Linked DNA regions of Homo sapiens: region 1 is linked to region 2. A link means that fine-mapping ties the variant in region 2 to the expression of a gene that starts in the linked region. Tissue or cell type: aorta. Region 2 holds a variant in brackets; the other region holds the start of a gene. All regions are shown on one strand. Distances are from middle to middle.

What was found. PIP is the estimated chance that this variant, and not a neighbour inherited with it, causes the effect.
Region 1: TOX starts here. The variant in region 2 is fine-mapped to the expression of TOX in aorta (GTEx, PIP 0.93).

Annotation. Positions count from the first base shown.
Region 1 is chr8:59,115,149-59,123,258 of GRCh38, reverse strand. TOX (thymocyte selection associated high mobility group box) reads left to right here and starts at 4,112. Exons shown (of 9, transcript NM_014729.3): 1 at 4,112-4,373. The coding sequence starts at 4,272. TOX-DT (TOX divergent transcript) reads right to left here and starts at 4,049. Exons shown (of 3, transcript NR_149031.1): 1 at 3,974-4,049; 2 at 3,188-3,302; 3 at 1-2,923. RefSeq lists silencers at 3,368-3,587, 7,426-7,475.
Region 2 is chr8:58,796,863-58,804,972 of GRCh38, reverse strand. No RefSeq gene overlaps it. Among named protein-coding and RNA genes, the nearest start is that of NSMAF, 140 kb to the right of the region's middle. The variant A/C (reference allele first, on the strand shown) is at 3,907.

The sequences.
Region 1 (8,110 bases), 320 kb before region 2:
GGGCTTAAAATCCTAGGTGGGCCATATGAGGTATAAAATGAATGGTATTTTAAAAGAATGAGGCTTTCTTTTCCCTAGAAATATTGCGACATCAGCTGTCACTGGAAAACTAGCCCATAAATCAGAAAGGCCAGTGAAGGGCTAAATATTAATTTAGTTATACAATACGGCAGGCTTTGATTTTAGTTTTAATATCTGGCATTTCAAAATCAACCCCTCTATATGACATTTCATTCTCATGTGCATCTATAGAGGGCTTCAACCCTTGAAGAAAAACTAACTCCAAAATCTAGCAAAGAATGCCTGCCAGGAAGTACCATGGTTTGTTGAATAATTTTTATAAGACTCTTGTAAATCACAGATAGGATTAACTGTCTAAAAGCTATTTTCCCCAAAGTAACACATTCTGTATGTGATTTGGAGACATTACTACAAGATTTAGGACTTAACCTACATAATACAAAGAATCAGTAGACATAAAATGTGGTCACTGAAAACAAGTATAAATTTGAAAACGTAACAATTTGTGAAACTATAATTAAAGTGAAGATGGGCAATGTTGAGGGAACAAAATCAAATGCTCCGTGTGGTTTGTAATTACTGATGAGGCTTTCCAAAGTAATCTGGAAAATTAAATAAGACTGCGAAATTCAATGTAAAGAAATTAGGACCAGGTCCACGATATAGTAGGCATTTCACAAGTAGGTACTGATAGCATTACATCAGCACTGGTAAAGACACGTTTTGTTTACAGGCACTCATTTTCTGGTAACTAGAGTACATAAAGTTCCTAGGTCAGGTGAATAAACTGTAACCTGGACCTTTACAAGTCATGCAAGTTTACTGACAGTAAATGGGCAAATTGCCAACTCCATCTCTAAAAGGCAGCGTAGGTGATGAGGTTTTGGGAGTGGTGATCCTCAATGTCCTCTTATGGGGATCAACACAAAATGACAATCCAGCCTATCTACTAAAATTTCATACTTTTAACATTTCCTTTGTTAAGGACTCTTTCCTTCTAGACTACCTTATCTTTCCTTTTAGGCCAGTGGTTCTCAATCTTTTCTGAAAATTAAAGCCACTGGAGAGCTTTTAAAAATTCCTGTGCTCAGGCCCTACCTGAAAAGAACTGAATCAGAATCTGTGCGTGTGGGGCTCTGGCATGAGTATTTTTCTAAACTGCTAAGATGACTTCACTGACCAGACTAGTTTGGAAAATACTACTCTGAAAGACTACATCTAGAGCAGGAACCATTTTAAGTAATTTGTTTTGTATTTTAAACCTATAAATAATACAAAGCATTAGTGTTTTTCACCACTCTCTCTGTTGATTAATGTACAAATGAATGAGTGAATGGACAAATAACTATTTTATTTATCCATGATGTGGAGTTGAATGTCCAGGAAACTGAAAAGTATTACAATGATGCTCTATTTTATTTTCTAAATTAAGAAAGATTTGCTCAGAGGTTTAGATATTCAACTTTCCCCAACTTTTAGTACAAATACATCCATTTAGTTTTTGATGGGCCTTGGATACAGCATTATAAAGTGAGCATTTTTTCAGATTACACTGAGATGGCCTCTCTTTGTATAAGTGGCTAGAAGTAAGAACTTTTTCCCCCAGTAGCTCATATTCCCACCTATCACACCATGCCATGTACAGTATACCACTTTAACTCCATACACTCCGATGGAAGAAACCAGACTCTTGATTATGTAGAAGAATGCACAGGTCTCATGCATTTGGATTTTCCCTTAAAGCAGAGAAAACTGGTAGGTCTGTAGAGGAAAGCAGGAGATATCATTATCTCCCAGGAGTCAAGATGCAGATAATGGTATTGTTCCAGTCTTGAACCATTTCATTTCATCTTCCTGATGTTCACGAGGCCATCAAACAGACATCAATGATGAATTCCAAGAAAGTTTTATTTTTAAAAATCAAGTTTTGATATAATAAATGTTGGATTGAGGATAGAAATTTAAGCTGAGAAATGTTTAATTTGGACCTAAAAAAGTTTATTATTACTATTATTATTGTGGAAGGAAATACATACAGGCACATTTTAGTATCTACAACAGTATTTGGGAAGCTGTTATGAAACACAAAACTTCATTTAAATTTTATTATAAAGACCTTTATTAGGAGAAAGGACATATTTTCTATTTCTTACTTTTATTTTGTGCCTTGAAGGACTTGTGAATGTATAGAATAATTATTTTTTCTTACTGCTTCCTCTTTGCAACCCAACCTCCACCAAGTCAATCGTGAAGGTAGGAAGAAAGCTGTATTTCTGTTACTTTTAAAAATGATAACGAGAAGAAATTAAAACAATGGCTTAAGAGAAAGAGGATGTAAGGAGTACAAAGCAAAACTTAACAAAGAGTTAGTAAAGGAACTTGCATTGACAATTCACTCAGCCATGTTAATTTTATCATTAATACTGTCTTCATCATTTTTTTTTCCAGGTCTCTCTGCTCGTATTTGCTTGGTGCTCCGAAATGCACGGGAACAGACAGCTATGGGAAAGCTGCACAGAGCAGTTGGCAATCAACATGTCCTAGAAGGGTGTGTGGAGTAGCAAAACAAGTGGAACGGATGAAGAACTTCCAAGCTCCTTCGCAGAGTTTTGGGCCCTAGTGTGCAGGGCTGCTCCCTCATGAGATGGAGGACAATGTCGCCCACACCTACTTGGACCTCTCACCAAGGACACTGCCCTCAGAGATAAATCTGTTGGACGGCAGCCAAGAGACCCCAAATTGTCTCAACCTCCAGGACACGGCAAGTTGCAAGTTTCCGAGTTGGGGAGGCAAAGCGGGAAAACATGTTTGGCGATTTCCTCCTGCCACTCACCGACCGGAGAAATGGGGAGGCGGACTCCAGGTCTTTCGTGGACTGCCAAGAGCCCTATAGGGCGTCCAGCTATAAAAAGAGAAGAATCCCATGAAGGACAACAAGCAAACTCATATGTTATCCCTTTAGCCGGATTGTGTGCTGATGATTGTTTCCCTATTTACACTTCGAATCACCCCTGTGGTCTTTTGTGAGTCCCCAAGGCAGCCTCAGCCTTCGCAAACCGTCCAGTGGGGCACGAATCTCGGAGGGGTGCGGGCTGCAGGCGGCAGAGGGAAGCCAAAGAGGGGCGGCTTTTCCAGGCCGTCCACCCCCAGGCGAGCTGGTCCTCACCCTTCGATCGGCTCGAGTCCCTCGGACAGTTGCCCACTCACAGCGTGCAAAGGGGTCGCACTCCCTGTGGGTTCTCCGCCCTCAGAAGCGGCGCTGCGCAGGAAAGTCACCTCCACTACGGGCCGGGAGTAGGGAGGGGAGCACAGTGACAGGGTTGGGGAACAGCCGAGGAGGAGTGGGGGTCGCGGAGATAGGGGTGGGGACGGCCGCGGAGAGGGCGGTGGGAGTGGGGTGGGGCCGGGGAGGGCCGGGGGCGGGGCTGCGGGGCGGGGTGCGCCACAGCGCCCCCTAGCTGCGCGCTCCCCACGGTGCCCTGAGGCCGCTGGTGGCTCTGGCTCGGCAGCCCCTTTGTGTGCGACGCGCTGGTCCCGAGGAGCGCGGCACGGGCACAGCGGAGGCCTCCCAGGGTCCCACCGCTTCTGTCCCAGCCAGGCCGTGCTCTCCTCCTTCTCCTTCTCCGCTCCTCCTTTCTCCGGTCCCCGGCCTCTGGTTCCGAACAGCAGCCATTGGGCCTTGACGAGCCCGCGTCCGGCCGCGCTCCCTACCCCGCCCGGCCCGGGACGCTCGCCCCCCTCCCGCCCTGTCCCTTCTGGATCCCCGCCCCACCCCCCCACCCCCCACATCCCGGGCCTCCAAGGTGGAGAAAATAAACTACAAGCAGAACAACTCAGAATCTCCAATAAAACGCCCAGTACCTAGAGCCCGAGCGCGTGTGCCGGGCTGCGAGGGGCGCGGGAGGCGGGGATGGGGGGGCGGGCGGGGGGGACAATGAGCGCATGAAGTTACCTGCCCGGCGGCGGCGGCAGCGGCGGCGGCGGGACCAAGAGGCGGCGGTGGAGCAGGCTGCGCGCTCGGCGCCGACGGGTGCGCGCCGCGGCTTGGGGGAGAGTTGAGCGCTTTTCCCCCCTCTTTTTTTTTTTTTTCCTCTTCTTCTTAAACAAACCACAAACGGATGTGAGGGAAGGAAGGTGTTTCTTTTACTCCTGAGCCCAGACACCTCACTCTGTTCCGTCTAAGCTTGTTTTGCTGAACACTTTTTTTTAAAAAAGGAAAAAGAAAAGGAGTTGCTTGATGTGAGAGTGAAATGGACGTAAGATTTTATCCACCTCCAGCCCAGCCCGCCGCTGCGCCCGACGCTCCCTGTCTGGGACCTTCTCCCTGCCTGGACCCCTACTATTGCAACAAGGTGAACGCTCTGCTTTTGTTTCCACCGTGTTCTTGCTGCTTGATCCTGGGAGGGGAGCGGCGGTGGCCGGGCCGCGGCGGGGCCGGCTTGGCGGAGGCCGGTCCCGGGCGCGCTCGGCTCGCAGCCCGCTGCAGCCTGCGTGCGCTTGGGTAGTAAATATTGTGGAGTAGCTCCGGGGGCTTGCCAAACACCGCGATTGTGCGGAAAGTGACACGATTTGCTCGGATTCTTTCCTTCCTGCTGTTCGCGGCTAAGGATCCCTGCCTAGGTTTGCCGGGGGGCGTTTAAAAAAATAATAAGAGAAAACCGTGGAATACTTTGGGGGTGTGTCTGGGGTCCAGGAACGGAGGCAGAGTAAGAGAATTCAGTTTATTTCCCAGTTCCCCCTTCTCTCTCCCTCCCTCCCCGGGCAGTGGGGGCTCGTGGCACCACTTCCCTTCTCCGGATTAGTTGCCAGGGGAGCAGCCGGGAGTCGGGGTGCAGGGACCTGGGAGGCGCCCCTGCCCCCCACAGGGAAAACTGCCCCACAACTCTTTTGTTTTCTCAAACCGGTTCCGGCAGCCGAGCCCGGGTTCGGACACAGGTCCGCGGGCCAGAGCACAGCGGGGTAGCTGGGTCAAGGTTTGGGGAACAGTTCCTGTTTAAGGGGTGCGCGCGGAAATTGCAAGTTTGTTGGGAGCCGGGCGAGCACGTCGCGTTCAAGTCCAAAGCTCCCGCACTCGCGGAGCAGGGTCCGCGGCTGAGCTGTACCCACGGCCCGCTGACCTCGGGTGCCAGGGCCGCGGGGGCCCGGGGAGAGGCGGATCATGCCGGTGACCCGGAGGTGGGGCGCTGGCCTGGGCTGCTGCGGAGTTCGGCTGGGTCCACCTATAGGACAGTCAGGGGGTACGAGGGAGGGGGTTACTCTCCCGGCTTCTCGAACTCTCTCATCCCAGAGAGGGAGGACACGCAGGGACCGGTCCCCCAGAGTGGTCGCAGGGGCACGACTGCCCACGCCTAGGGCTAGTTGGACGTGTCTAAGCAGTCCCGTTGGATGAACGTTGGCAGAGAGAATTGAGTTCTCTAAAACGCTGGGCGGGCCTTTTAGACGCCCAACTCTCGCTTGGTGATAAATCTGCCTGATACTCACAGCCCCTGCAGGCACATCCATGGCGACCCTCGGTGCATTCCACGGGAAAAATCGTTGGGACTCCCAACATTTGCCTGGTGGCGAGTCATCACCAAACGGCTTTTTTACCTGATACAGAGATATTTAGTGCGCTGCCTTCTCAGCCCTGGACTCCGCACCACGCGACCGAGTCGCAGCTCCGAGTCTTGGACAGTGTTGACACACAGGCAGGCTCTCACACACACACTTCCCCGTGGAGAAGCTCCTCGATGCTGTGTCCAGTGTGAGACCCACTCAAAGGACTGTGCTGTGTGCCGATGGTGTTTAGGCAAGTTAGAAAAGAGGGACATCCAGTCTTGAGCAAGGCAGAAGGGCTTCCATTGTACAGGGAGCCCTTCAGCTACGGGCAAGTTGAAAGGTACGGGGAACTTTGGCAAGCGCATAGGAGTTTGTGTGATGAAGTTTCATTATTTGCTGGTGACATAGTTCTTTTAGTCTAAAATCTGTTTTGTCTGTACACTCAAGTATTGTGTTACGTTTTATTTTGCTTATGACACCAATACTATTGCTAATAAAAAATAATAAAGTTGCAGCCCTATCTTGGAGAGTAAAGACTTATTCCACTGTAGTTACCGGAACCAAAAGCTCAGAACTATTTTGGCAATGAGACTGGACAAATCTTATTAAGTTTATCAGTGATTTTAGGCCCCAAAAAGAAGTTAATGACTTGGATACACATTTCACTCCTCGTTCTTGTGATAAGTAGGGTCAGATTTAATTTAAAAGTTAAATGCTTTGGAAAATCAGGAATTACTTCAATATATTAAATCATTTTCCAATTAAGTGCTTTAAATAATTTTAGTGGGTTGTGCTGTGAATTGAATAAATTAATTTAGAAAGTATTCAGAATTTCTTTACTAGCTCATTGAAGTTCCTTTTAAGTCACCCCGTGTATAAGAAGCAAACTGTTCTTTTTAAATGCAAATTAGGCACCCTTTCTGTAGACTAGTTGCGAGTCTTCTATTTAACTTATCCAGAGAATAATAGATTTTTTAAAATCCAAAGTCATAAGACATGTTTCTAATAGTGGAAGAAGACTTCATGGAAATGTTTCTCCAGGGACATCTCTGGCCCATCTCTGTGTAGCAGTCCATCAGATATATTTGTCACTGGTCCCGATTATATTAAATGTACTGGATAGTTTTCTAGGCCCCACAAATCCCAGGCACTTGAGTTTTTTCACTCCACCATGATTAGCATTGGTACAAAATTTCTGTCCAGCTCCACAATTGTAGTTGTGCATAATGCAGTCAACTAGCATTTGTTTTTGCAATGACATGAGTGGATTTGCAGGGAAATGGAAGAAGGACAGAAGTTTGGAAAAGGTGAAGTAAGAAATCTGTGCCTACATTTATTAAAACAAGTTGGATCAGACATCCCCAAAAGAACAATACTGCAAAGTAAATCTTGCTTCCTTCGGAGGCGTAATGAATATGTAGCTTACTACAAATAGCAGTCAGTTTGTCAGGTGATTTGTTTTTAATAGGGTGATAAGATCATAAATTACTAATTATCTTTATTTTAAACCTGTCAACACTTTGCTTATTTAAAGTTGGTGTGCTAAATCCCAGCGGAACCAGTATCTATCTGTGCTTTAGAATCCTACAACTGTAGCTACAGTTTCCCGGTGACATTTTTTTCAATGTCAGAAGAGACTCTAATGGAGAAAATGAATATTCTCTTCCTGAAGCTTTCTAAACTAAAATGTGATTGTTTTACTCTGCTGACACTTTCCGGCACTGCTGCTCTATAGATTGCCAAAATGCTACTTACATTTTTCAGTTAATAAACTCTGGAGGAGGCATTTTTGGAAACGGTTTAATCTAGTATTGCTCTACTGTAAGACTAATACACGTTATGAACATATCACTATGCAAAGTAGCCTCCATTTTCACATAGCCCATTGTGGGAACAATGCGAATGATGTTGGTTAAGGCAAGTGTGTGAGGCATCTCTTACACAAACAGCCAGAACGGATGGCATGTTGCTGTATATAGGTCAGTGTTGGAAATAGCAGTGTAGCTCATAGACTGGACAGACACATGGAGGCTGGAGTTAACAGTATTCACCTCTTGCAGCCTAATGCATGGTTATATTTCAGACATTGAAAGATGAGTACCATAGTGGAGTTTCATCTAATTAGACTATTTTAAGTAACATTGTATCCCTTAATTGAGCTGAATGCTACCAAAATAAATTGGATTAAATGAGCTTACAATTGGAGTTCTGTAGTGATATAGTCTTGTTTTCTATTCTAGTTAAAGATGTCAGATCATCAGTTTAAATATATACCTACAGAGTAATAACAGTTCTTTTCAGTTTCTTAGTGCAGCGTCATTTCCAAAGATTGTTTTCACTGGTTTTATGCTAAGATAGGACAAAGAAGTGGTACTTTTTCATTTTTACAACGATGTGATGTGTTCAGTTATTGCTCAGTATCTGCCCACATAAGGAGTAGTAATACAATTATGTTATGACATGGCTAATGACAGGGATGGTGACCTCGGCCTGCAGTGGGAGGAGAAATAATGGGCTTCACTGTTCTCAGTGGTTGCCTTTATGGAATCAT
Region 2 (8,110 bases):
TGTAGGAGTGGGTTGAGTTGTGTCTCTAACATAATCGAGAAATGATTAAGAAAGAATAATTCAAAAATCCTGATTCCCATTCAAATGTGACCGAGTTGATAAGGCAAAATGAGTCAAATAATGACTTCCAGTTAGTCAAATTATAGCCAAGGATGAAGTTGGTCTCTGTGATTATTTTTATTATTTGTGTTAAACGCAAAGAGGCCTGTCTGCATGGACCACAAGCAGTCCATGGGAAGCCGTGGCCACCAAAGCAATACAGTCAACCCTCGAACAATGCAGGGGTCGGGGCACCAACTCCTCCCCACACCCACGCAGTTGAAAATGCCTATGCAACTTTGACCCCCGCAAAACTTAACTACTAATAGCCTATTGTTGAGGAGAAGCCTTACTGATAACATAATCAGTTGAGTGACACATATTTTCTATGTTTTATGTATTATATACTGTATTCTTAAAGTAAGCTGGAGAAAAGAAAATGTTATTAAGAAAATCATAAAGAAGAGAAATAAGTTATTAACTAGTGTCAATAAGTGGAAGTGGATTATCATAAAGGTCTTCATCCTCTTCTTCATATTGTATAGGCTGAGGAGGAGGAGGAAGAAGGGGGTTAGTCTCGCTGTCTCAGATGTGGCAGAGATGAAAGAAAATTTGCACATAAGTGGACTTGCTTGCTTCAAACCCTTGTTAATCAAGGGTCAATGTATACTCTGGCTCAGATTCATTACTAAGATATTTCTTAAACTTATGAATGCATGACTTAAAATTAGCACATCAACAACCAATCCCTTTTCTATGGATCTCTTGCCCTTTGCAAAAGAGTTGTCCCACTCATTGGAAAAGTGATTAGACTGAACCATATGAAATTGCTAATATTTGACCTGTTTTATCTATGAAATGGTAATTTCATATGATTCAACCAAAAGGTGTGGGAATTAGAGACAATGGGGTTTTGACCATAACTTGATATGTAATTTCAAATGGAATTAGAAGTACTTTACAAAGTCCTGGGAGAAAATGCTCAAAGGAATAATCAATTATGTTTGTTTACAAGGTACCCCACTTAGAATGAGTCCTAGACAGGTATGTTATATTAAACAAGGAATATTTTAAATTACCAGTAAATCCCAATAGCCATTCATATTTCTTTGTTATAGTAAAAAATTCATATGAACATTTGTAATAAATAGGTTATCTGCTGGAACAGAAAGTTTTTGTTAAACATAGACGTCCTCATGTTTATCCGTTAAATAGAGATTTGACCTACATTTTCTTATTCCACTCATAATTGTCATTTTCTTTTTTTTTCTTTTATTTCTTTTTTTTTTTTTTTTCTGGAGACAGGGCCTCACTGTGTCACCCAGGCTGGAGTGCAGTGGCACAATCTTGGCTCACCACAACCTCTACCTCCCGGGCTCAACCAATCCTCCCACCTCAGCCTCCCAAGTAGCTGGGACCACAGGTGCATGCCAACACGCCTGGCTAATTTTTTTCTATATTTTGCAGTGACAGGGTTTTGCCATGTTGCCCAGGCTGGTCTTGAACTCCTGGGCTCAAGCGATCCACGTGCCTCAGCCTCCCAAAAGTGCTGGGATTACAAGCATGAGCCACCGTGTCCAGCCATAATTGTTATTTTCAAGGAAGGATAGAAACAGAAAATTCATCTCTTTTGCTGATTATTAAATATTAAAATAGTGGCAAGGCAAGGTTAAAAATTCGTATCATGAGTTTAACCTCTAAATCTAAGTCACCCTTCCACTTAATGGTTGAATTCATGTGAGTCACCCCATGGTAAAAATCTCTTTGTCTGCCTGAAATTCAACAATTTCCTTATCTCCAAAACAATTTGGAATGTCATAGCACACAGTAGATGCACAAAAAATGCAATGATACAAAGAAAGATCAATAAAACATCATCAATTATCCTCAACAGGAATTGTATGGTGTTTTCTTGATGATTTAAAGGCTCTTTAAATATAGATGGGAATTGAATATTACAGGCAAGCATTAGGAGTGAAGATGCAAATGTTTCATTAAAAACCTAGGGTTACAAAAAGATTGAAAGAATTTCAAAATGAGTTATGCCATATTTTTTTGGCCTACATAGTTGAACAAGAGCTTTTCTATTTGTGACAAAAGTAAAAGATCTAATACACACTAGTCTCACCAAGAAAATAAGAAGGGAGAAAAGAGGTGCTAGACATGTAGGGTGTCAAACACAAGAGAGAACATTCAGGAGACAAGTTTCATGGATTCTAAATTAAACTATTGATGAACAGGATACTGAATTTTTTTTTTCTAATTACCAAGTGTTAGTATGACTTGGTGAAGCAAGGAAAAGACTGTATTTCCTGGTTCTATTTTTTAGGATTTTCAAAGGCGATTTCTCTACTTTTATTTGGAACGATTTCCCAGTGTGGAAAACCTTTCCTAACAAAAAAAAAGTCTCCAAATCTGTACACAAGACCATTGCTTGGAGAAAGGGGATGGGGAGCCCCCTAACCTCACCAACCACGGAGGAGGAAGGCTGGGAGCCGCGGGAGGAAGAGGTAACTTCAAACCCAAGTTAGACACACTTGGCAATCTACGTGTACACAGAGAGATTAGACTTTGCCTTCTCATTTCATACTTAGCCAAACATCTTGTCATTTGTATCCAGCATCAGCCTGCAATGTAGTAGATGAGAAGAAGTGAAGATGAAGTTCTTGTTCCCGGATGAGAGACAACTGAGAACAATGACCTGTTATAGTTCAGCACGGTCAGAGTTGCGCCTAATTAATGAAGCCCACCAGCAGGAATCATTTCACATTTTATTAACAGCTTGCTAGCAAAGACATTTGAAAGTGAAATTTTATTCACACTGACATGAGGCCAGAAGAAAAGAACAGTGACTAGAAAATAAAATGGAAAGACTTACGATACTACAGAGAAAACAAAAATCCCATTCTAAAGAAAGAGTATGAACCAAACTACAGTATTTTAAAGTCTGGAGCGTCCCTGTTTGACAATTGTATGTTTACAATAAGCCCAAACATAATTGCTCTGATAGGCTGTCAGGGAAAAGATTAATTTGGCAAAGATTAGTATTGACTTGCTGTTTATTAAGGCTTTTAAACAGCTGTATCTGGCAGCATTCCTGTAAGTGGCTGTCATATCTGAAAATCAGCCTCACACCCTGGTGCTCGCCAGCTGTTCCTAAACAATCTTCTACCACTCTGAATGTCTTTCTCCAGGCCAAACAGCAAAAGCAAACTATTGCCAAATGAGCTTTTTTCTCCTCCTGTCACTTACTTCTGGTGGGGGTAGGGAGCTTCTGAATGCTGAAATGTCAGCTCAGGGCTGATGGCTTAGCTGATAAGAGGTGCCGGAAGCCAGTAGGTGGTTTTGGGTGCTAGATGAATACATTCCCCACATAGAGAGCGGTAGCGGTAGCACTGTTAGTCACCTCACACAGACAAAAAAACCACAGCTTGCAACTGTTGTAGGCAAAATGTTTTAAAGACAGTTAGAAAGTGATGATCAAAGGTTTAAAGCCATCAGAATTCCAAAATTAATGTTTTGTTTCTTCAGGCCAGGCACATGCCATATCTGCCATATAGCTAGGAAAAGACCCCACAGTGGGATGCTGAGAAGTTCAGTAGTGGCCATTCATCTTTAGCGCTGGAACTGGGATTTCTCCCAAGAACTCTGAAGGAGGACAAGCCACTTACTTGGTAAAGCATGCACCTTGCTTTTTGATTCAGTGGAAACCCGTAGAATAAAACAGATTTGGATGTTTTGAAGTCTGTCAAACACAAGGCAGATTGAGTTTTGTACTGGAGTAAGACCTGGTAGTTTCAAATCCAAGTATAGTCAGAAAAGCAATGGAAAGAATAACATTCCAATGGAATTAAACATCAGACTACA[A/C]AGGGCCCAGTGTTGTGGTGAAAGTCACATTAGCCTTTCCAATATGACTGCTTTTGGGGGGATTAATATCAGCCTTTTTGCATTGCATCAGGCAGGACTAAGTTGTCAGAGCAGATGCAAAAGGACATTGTCATCTCTTAACCCTTTCTCTGCCGGCACTTTCCATTACACTCTAAGGCATGGGGTTGGGGGAAGGAGGGAGGTGGCTTAGAAGCTAAGCTGTCTACAAGGACATTTCAAGCAGGTGTTTACCAACGTTTAACTTTTAAATAACTTCATTTTGGTGTCTCTGCTGTTGATGCACTCTGATGCTTGACATTTGAATCAGGATCAAATCCAGCCAGATTCCAAGGTACAGACAAATGAGCCATCCGCTCATCCCTGAATATGTCACTTTCCACCATGAACACCCTAAAGCTGTCTCTCTGGTCCTTTCCACATATCACAATGGGGGGTGGTAGTGGGATGAGAAATAACACTAATTCAGCACTTACAATCAGAGAAATAAAGTGACTATAGACATTGAGAACACAAGAAAGGTGTGCGTTTGCCTCAGCCCCACTGAGTCTGGCTCTGAAGCCCAGTCTGGGGCAAAGAAAAATCAAGAGGACAGAATTTACTTAAAAATTAATCTGTGACCATAAGTCATTGAGTGTTCTAAGTTCTAAAATAGCTCTGGGCTTAAGGGCACTGTGGTCATTTTCTAGGGCAAGAACTCTCTCTGCAGAGGCCTGATCACACTGAGAAATTAGGCCAAGTGCCAGTTTGTACAGAAATACACCCTCTTACTTGCTCCAAAGGTACCTCAGACCTTACAGCAAAGCAAGAGTTCTATCACTGGATTTAAAGCACATTGTTGCTAATCAAATTACAAGACTACAGCTTCAACCTTTAATCCCAAAAATACTCAATACTGCTTTAAATAGAATCAAAGAAAGGCCAGGGTAGGGGCAGGGAAAAAAATCCCTTACATGTATTCCTGTCATGCTTTGTAGGATAGCATGTGGCACACTTATTCTTCATAGCTCTTTTATAAGTTTGGTTGCTTCCCATTGGCCTGTAATTATTTGATTATTCAGACGAGTTAACTAAGTGTGGGAGATGAAGGGGTATACCAATTCCAAGACTGAATCTGATAAAGCCAATGAATTAAGTGAGGGGTCCTCGACAAACTGTTGGGACCCCACTATGATTACCCAAAAACCAACGAAGTTATCCCCATTGCTTGTGGTCCATGGGTAAAGTCCCTCCAGAAACCTAACATCTTGGTATAATGCACAGACGTGTAGAAATTGTCCTGTATAAAAGCAGCCTGTACTTTTATCTTACTAGATTTGCCTTTGCGAGGACTATCTGGTTTCTCTAGCCTGAGGAAAATCCTCAGAATTCATCTCTCTACAAATTTGGAACCAATTCTGGGGTATTTCATATTTTACTTTGTTTTTGTTTTTTATCAAGATAGACCCACAGAAACCTAAATCTTGTCTTAGCAAGAGTTTCATACATGAACAAAAGAAAGAACAATGTGTCTAAATGAAACTGCAATTTCCAGGTACTATTACAAAATACTTACACCTACAAAGCCATTCTAGCTGTTGAGTTGGGCCATTTTTAACATCTGGTTTCATGATGTGGTTTCAGGAGACCAACAAAACAGAAGTGACAGTCCTTTATAGTACTAAGTCTCTGGGAGTTTAGGTCCCCCTCTCTCTTTCTGTCTCTCCTCCTTTCTTTCCTTACTTCCAGGAGAATCTGTTACTTTATACTACCTATTGGTTTACTGAAATGATTCTGGTCTTATGTTTTCAGAACATTTACCTTCGACTTCTGGACAGCTGGAAAAGCCAGATTGCCTGCAACCAGAGCAAGTTGGCCTGCAGCTTCCCTTTGCTGATCACTTTGTTAATTCCCATAGAGATAGAAAGAGGTCCCATTTTTTTCTCCGCCCCTTCTCCTTTCTAATGTAGAGCGATCAGAAGTCTCTAAGGACTTTTCTATATGACTTCCCATTTCACACCACAGATGGTTTAGATAAAAACTATTAATTTTATTTATTCAAACAGCTTCATTTCACCAAAATGAGCCTATTTTTAACATTTTGCCTTAAGGTTTGTTTTCACATTTTTGAAGATGTGAAAGAGTTTTGCTGACGTCTCAGGTTTTAATCATCATCATTTCTGCCACCCAACAAGCTTTTGGACTACAGTGGAGCTGATGAGTCTTTTTAGATGGAGTTTACTTTTTAAAAAATGTCATTAGTATTGCTTTACAAATTTGGTTTATGTATATTTTCATACAACATTTGAGGGTTTGCATTTTTTCGTGAGGTTAGCTTTGATCACTTCAATTTCAGAATAAGTCCTGTATATGCTCTGTCAAACATAATGATGTCAGCTCTCTATCTTGGTTTTATCCTTATGTCATTACTTTGCAGAATATTTCCATTTGGACAACATACCATACTGGAAAAAAAATCTCTTCAGACACTCCACGTTCAAAGAAAGAAACTACAAATAAACAAGTCAAAACTTCATCCACTTTTGGTTGTTGTACAGGGTCAATGTAAACTGCTTGCTAGATGTTACCTGTGTTAACATAAGAAGAAAAAAATCTGCTAAGTTACTTAAAATTAAAATGGCAGGCGGAAGCATATAATAATAGTCTAGTGACCCAAACGAGAACTATAGTGTGGTGTGAAAACTTGACTAATTGCGGAAAACACAGATGATGAAACTATCCAACTTTGCTTTGAACTCCAATCTTCCCCCCACCCTTCCTTATCTCTATGGGAATATTTCTTACTGCTTTCCCCAGAGATATCACATGTGCCTGTGCCTGTGGGCTCAATGAGGAGGGAGAGGAAAAGATTCACACCCTAATTGTTTTCCCTTCAGTTATTCAGTAGCCCTCAAGATCTCCCATTCCTTCACAGACTTGTAAGGCACTAGGTATTGATGTTACGTATTATAGAATCAACCTAGAGCATGTCAGCATCCAAGCCTGACTTTTCTAATGACTAGATTTCCAATTAGCTCTTTAATTGTTTCTTTAACTTATCCAGATATAGGCATAACCATCCATCCCCAGTGGAATGACACAAACTCACTTTCACAGGCTGCGTATAGTGTAGCGAACATGCATGAATCTGAAAGTGGCACAGAAGAATCATAATCAATGCTGTATTTCTCAAACTTCAGTGCATTAAAAGTAGATTTCCGGGCTCCATTCCCAGATAGTCCAATGCAGTTAGTCTATAGGTATGACCTGGCATTTGCATTTTTAGAGCTACCCCAAACTATTTTGATGTCAGTGGCCATAGAATAATTAATAAATGGATGGCAAGTGGATCTTGCCTTCAACTTTAAGTCTCCGAGATTCTTTGTTGTCAATGGCCAGGTTTAATACCAACTTGAGGACTTAGCTTCTGATCATGAAAAGACACCCAACTAATAAAGCCCTAGGTTATCTGATTAAAGCTATTCAACAGTTTGTTTGAGTTACAAAAGAAGGTCTCTAGAGGCAGATTGGTCAGAATCAGTTCAGGGCTCCACAATGCTATCTTTCTCATCACCCTAAATGTGTAGACAATCATTGTCATCTTTGTTGTCTCTTATAGTATTCTAGGACAGAAGAAGCAGGAAGAGCAAAGAGGAAAAATGAAAAGAAGCAATGCCTGTCAAGATCCACAAACTTTCTCAGAAATCTCCAACAGACTTCTACATATGTCTCATTGACCAAAAATATCTCATATGTTCATCCCTAGCTGCTCATGGCCCTTTGAATAAAACCAAGGATCTATTGACAAAGACTGGGAGAGTAGATATTTGCAATATTAGCAGTGTCTACCACACCAACTTCCAGTCATTCAACTAAGGTCTTTTCTGCCATACCACCACTGGCTTTGCTCTTGAAAATTATCTGCAACGATCCCTAATTGCCAATTTCATATGAGTTGTATTCTGTATTATCTTCCTAGATTTCTCTGCTACTTTTGACCATACTGAAACTCTCCCCAAAACCTCTCTCTGAAGTCTTAGCTCTTCTAAATACTAAACCATAGTTCCACTGACCACAGACAGACAACTCTTATTCTGTGCCTAATAAATAATTGACATTAAAAGAGTTGCCTAAACCAAATTTATAACCTTCCAGTAAAGACTTGTTCCTCTTCCCAAACTCCCTTTCTTGGAGAATGGCATGCTGA